Regions from separate parts of the Homo sapiens genome. Here region 1 is linked to region 2. Evidence: fine-mapped expression QTL. A gene starts in region 2. The other region holds a variant in brackets. All regions are shown on one strand. Distances are from middle to middle.

Region 1 (2,970 bases), 57 kb after region 2:
TAGTATTGGTGGCTGAGGATAGGGCAAGTGGGCAGTAGGGGCACAGACACCCTCCCTATATTTGCTTTTTTTCTACTTATTCCTGACTTACGAGCAATTTAAATAATAAAGGCACGGAGGGACAAAATCCCTATATGTCTCTGGAAGAGAATTTTGGTAGGAATCTTAAAGGGTACAAAAACAGAGGAGGGAGAGAACTATTTAGTTAAAACTCAGATATTGCAAACAAAAGTAAAAATGTCAACCATATAGAAATTCAGGCATGTTTTCTTCACACATAAAATTGTCTGTGTGTGCAGTAGACAACAGAGGGCAGCAAACAAGATAACTACTGTGAAAACATTCTGCCACAGAGTTGATAATATGTTTGGAAGAAAAATACTTTGGGAGAAATATGTTAGTTATTGAATAGACAAAGCATTCATTTTTGGAAATATTAAGTACATGAAATAATAGAGAAATATCAATCCCTGAAAAGTGAAAGTAGTTTTCCCAGAGGATATATTATGAATTTTCCATTTTAATGGAGTTGATTAATTACCCCAAGATTTTGACTAAACTCAGGAATGAAAGAATATTAACATCAATATTTTTCATGGATTTATATATGGTAGAGAAAACCATTTTTGTAAAAATAGATTCTAAAACCATAACAATATTTCTAAGTGGTAAGGAGACTAACAAGGTTATCTTGGTCTTTTCTGGCCTAGCAGATAGTCACTTTGGAGTACGGTTCCCTACTGTGTGCCTGGATATGGGATAGGTCCTAATATTGAGTGCCTTTTTGGTGTATACATAAAAAGTGATTTGACATTGGGTATATATGGGCCTGGGAGAACATCTGGAAAAAGATCTATTCTAAAAGCACAAAAGATCACAGGGAAAGCAAGAAGCTAGGAGAAAAACAGAAGCCTTCCAGGAAAAAAATAAAGATAGAAAAGGTCTTTGATATTAAAGGCCAAAAGAAGACAGAGTTCAGGAATCCAGGAGATGGTTTAGCTCAGCCCAAGAATAGGGAACTTCAGTCAGAAGTAGAACAGCTCCAAAAAAACAGGCAGAATGAAGGGCTAAAAACTGGGAAAAGTTTGAACTTGCTAGCTAGCTAGAAGTATTCTCTATTAAGGAAATCAGTGAGGGATAATTCCTTAGCTGGGCAAGGTGACTCCATATTGCAGACTTCCTGTTTAACACACATGTGATATGCATTTATGTGTATGTGTGCATGCAACTTCACTAATTCATTCTCATCATCCAACAGACATGTATACAGTACCTACTAAATGCCAGGGACTGTGTTAGATACTGGGAATCCCACATTGGCCACACATGAGCCCTCCTCTCAAGGGTACCTTCTAGTCGGGGAAGCACCATGGAAAAAACAGTTACACAAATGTTTATTTATGATTATGATATGTCTGTGAAGGAGAAGTTGAGGACGCTGTGTGTAATAGGGAATCTAACATAGTTTGAGGGGTCAGAAAAGGCTTTTCTGGCCAAGTGGGTGTTAAAGACCTTGAAGAGGGGAAGAGATAAGTTGGAGGAGGGCTTCATTCCTGAAGCTTGGCACCAGGAAGAGCTTAAAAGCCCAGAGTCTGCAGGGCTAGTCCAGCTTCTCCCTAAACCTGCCCAACTCATCCTATAAACAAGAGAATGCATGAGGAGACTTTGCTTTCTTTTCTTTTCTTTCTTTCTTTCTTTCTTTCTTTTTTTTTTTTTTGAGGCGAAGTTTTGCTCCTTTTGCCCAGGGTGGAGTGTAATGGCATGATCTCGGCTCACCACAACCTCTGCCTCCTGGGTTCAAGGGATTCTCCTGCCTCAGCCTCCCGGGTAGCTGGGATTACAGGCACGTGCCACCACGCCCAGCTAATTTTGTATTTTTAGTAGAGACGGGG[T/C]TTCTCCATGTTGGTCATGCTGGTCTTGAACTCCCGACCTCAGGTGATCCGCCCACCTCGGTCTCCTAAAGTGTTGGGATTACAGGCATGAACCACTGTGCCCGGCCGACTTTGATTTCTGTAGAGCAGAGAGAGGAACTGAGAGCCCAAGGGTGAGGCTTGCCTCTATGGGCTGGATTTAGATTCCTTTAGGCTTACACTACTCTGGCAGCCGTCTGAAATCAGAAATGGTGCAGCATTCTGACCATTTAATTAATTCAAAACATCCTAATTCTCATTTTAAGGACATTATTCCATCTAATTATTTTTTTTCCAGTCTGTCCATTTGGAATGAAAAACAAAAGAATAAAGCTTAATGCCAGCATTTCTCAATGTCTCTCCGAAAAACATAACTCTGCACTAAATAAAGCCTGGTAATTCAAAAGCAAAGCACTAATATATTCAGCATAAAACAGACAGAGGACCTAGAGCAATAATGACACCACTAATAACTAAAACAGTTATAACAATTAACAACAATTACAATGATAGAGAAGCTAATGGGTATGATCACTGCATTTAAATTGCTAGCAGAGCTGAGAAGGGCTTTTTCTAGAGAAAAAAAAGCAGCATCTTACTCTCTTTATCCTATGTAAGGGAAGCTAAACTCCAAGCAACCAAAATGTCATAAGAAGAATAGCAACAGAACAAGTTAAAAAAAAGTATTGGTTTCTTTTTTCTATTTATTGCAAAGCATTTGTCATTGCATGCCAGGTTCTTTACAACTAGTGACAGTCATTTCTCTTGTAACTGAGGCCAAGTTGGTGCTACTGATGATAGAGTCAATGGCTGAAAATTAGCCTGTGTGACGAGCAAAGTTTTAAGGTAAAAAGGACCAGGACATCTCTCTGCCTTTCTCCTTCCTTAGGGACAATAAAATCTGACTGTTCCTTCCACAGTTCAGCTTATGTTTGGGAGTCACTGGGTAGCGACAGAATTCAGGCTGTGATCAGGGAAAAGTGGCTAAAGGCAGGCCAGCATGTTATTTACATTTTCTTGATTACTAAAATGATCGTGTCAATAAGGCCTGGCATTGAGT
Region 2 (2,500 bases):
GCGATCTTGTCTCACTGCAACCTCCGATTCCTGGGTTCAAGCAATCCCCCTGTGTCAGTCTCCTGAATAGCTGGGATTACAGGTGCCCATGACCACGCCCAGCTAATTTTTGTAGTTTTAGTGGAGACGGGGTTTCACCATGTTGGCCAGGCTGGTCTCGAACTCCTGACCTCAGGTAATCCACCCGCCTCCGCCTCCCAAAGTGGTGGAAGTACAGGCGTGAGGCACTGTGCCCGGCCCCTTTCTTTTCTTTCCTCTCTTTTCTTCCTTTTAGCTCTCTCTCTTTTTTTCAGACAGGGTCTTGCTCTGCAGTGATCAGGGCTCACTGCAGCCTCGAACCCCTGGGTTCAAGCCATCCTCCTGTCTCAGCCTCCCGAGTAGCTGGGACTACAGGCGCGTGTCACCATGCCCGGCTAATTTTTAAAATATTTTGCAGAGGCGAGGGTCTCCCTAAGTTGGTAGGGCGTGTCTCAAGCCTGGCCTCAAGCGATCCTCCCGCCTCGGCCTCCCTAATAGTATTGGGATTACAGGCGTGAGCCACCGCGCTAGGCTTGCTGAAATTATCTTTAAATAAGTTGTTAAAAGACCACCAACACATTGAACGGCTTTCTCTTGCTCCCTAGCTGCATGATATTGCTTCGAGTTTGTTTCGGTGTGAGCAATCTGAGTCGCCGGACCCTCTCGAGTCTGACTTTCACTCTGACAATCGGTCCGTGGCTTTACGAATCTGAATCGGAGTCCCCTTGATAGCTCCGCTGGGGAACAGCAAACTACGAGGTTCAAATGGTGGCTCTCGGGACTTAGTGAGGATCCAGGGATGTGGGCTTCCTAAAGCCCCGAACCTCCCACACTGCAGACTATCCCTCGCATAGCGAGAACAAGAGTAACAACCCCCTTACACCCCTCTGCTCCCGGGACCCACTGGCTGCCCGTCGCTGACGCCCCCTGGCCGCTGATTGGCTTCCCCTGACAGTGGGCGGAACGCGGCCCCGGATTGGATATCCATTCGCCGTCCCTCACCCGGCACCTGCGTGCACTCTCCGGCGTCCCAAGTGAGTGGAGGGGGGATCCCGACTCCAGTCCGGGGCCTTGGCCAGCGGAGCCGCGCTATTCGGAAGCGGGAATCCCACTCAGAGCCCGGGCCTGTAGGGGCGGGGCGTCCCGGGCACCCGGGATTGGGGCGTCTCCCGTCGTGCACCGGGGCACCGGCGACTCACCCGGAAGGAGAAGCCGTGATCTGGCTATATGGTGGGGCGCGGGCGGTGTCGCTGTGGGGAGCTGGTGCTGTTCTCAGGTGAGAGGGCGTGGGCGGGGCCTGGGGAGTGGGTGCTGCTCTCCTGTGAGGGGGCGTGGGCTTGAGCGTCAGTAGTGGCACTCGGGATGGTGGCATCGCTTTACATCCTAGGGAGGGACTCTCTTACCACCCGGGATTAAGGCAAGGGCTTGCTCGGGATCCAAGAAAGGAAACCCGGCTTTTCAGTTTACCTTCAAAGTGTATCTTTCACTTCCTACCCCCCAAGCTTAATCGGAAAGAAAGAAGGACCATGTGGACCTTTCGGTCCTAGTTTGTTGAGAATGGAGAAAGAGTGGCCGTAGTAAAAGACTCTGGGGACATTTACTTAAATGGCTAAGACTGGGGGCAATGGCGAGTATTTTACGTGGACACGGGAGACTTGGCGGTAGATTGTGGTCGCCTTTGTTACTTACCTTCCAAGTGAAAGGCGTACGATTAGAGATGGACAAAAAGATGGAGCATAACTGCTTGGTTGAGATCACACAGAGCTTGGTCAGAACTGGGAGCTTCCTCTGTTTAGTACCTGTGATATTTATAATTGGAGCGAGAGCTTTTTGAATTGCTTTCTGCCATCTGGCACTAAAGGCTCAAGATTGAGTAAGAAGGGACGGTAGTCTCAGTAGTTCCATCTACTTTTATCACCTGATTTGTTTCTTAACCTGTCTCTTGAAGTTGTTTAAATGGGAGAGAAAATAAATGGTGAGACTAAAGCCTTGCATTGTTACTATATTAGAAAGCTTTACGATGAATCTACTTTGTAAACAGCAAACAATCGGGTACTCACCAGAGCTACTGGTGCTGGTACAGGTGAAGAAAGTAAAGGAAACTTCAGATGTGGTTGAAAGGGCCCAGAAAATGTAGTTAACACTAAGTTATGTAACTAGCTATGGTCACTGACTCTAGCCTTATTTGGATGAAGTACAGATCCATCTCCCAGATCAGAGAACTAAAGTTAGGAACTTCCTGCTGCTTCTCCAGAGGCAGAACTGAGCTTTTTCTTTTGAGGAGTGGTATCTGTGGGGAGGAATCTAATGGAGAAGAGTGGTTGCTAGAAATTACTACTTGGTGTCTAGGTTTTTGTATTTGTTCCAGTGTTTATTTGTTTGTTTTTTGAGACAGGGTCTTGCTCTGTCGCCCAGGCTGGAGTGCAGTGGTGTGATCTTGGCTCATTGCAGACTCCGCCTCCTGGGTTCCAGCAATTCTCAT

What was found. PIP is the estimated chance that this variant, and not a neighbour inherited with it, causes the effect.
Region 1: its variant is the best candidate, but not a certain one, in a credible set for the expression of SNX11 in whole blood (TOPMed, PIP 0.63).

What each region holds. Positions count from the first base shown.
Region 1 is chr17:48,163,701-48,166,670 of GRCh38, forward strand. All of the region lies in intron 10 of SKAP1 (src kinase associated phosphoprotein 1), which reads right to left. Among named protein-coding and RNA genes, the nearest start is that of MIR1203, 8.7 kb to the left of the region's middle. The variant T/C (reference allele first, on the strand shown) is at 1,893.
Region 2 is chr17:48,106,545-48,109,044 of GRCh38, forward strand. It overlaps SNX11 (sorting nexin 11), which reads left to right and starts at 1,222. Exons shown (of 7, transcript NM_013323.3): 1 at 1,222-1,294. RefSeq lists a silencer at 1,228-1,387.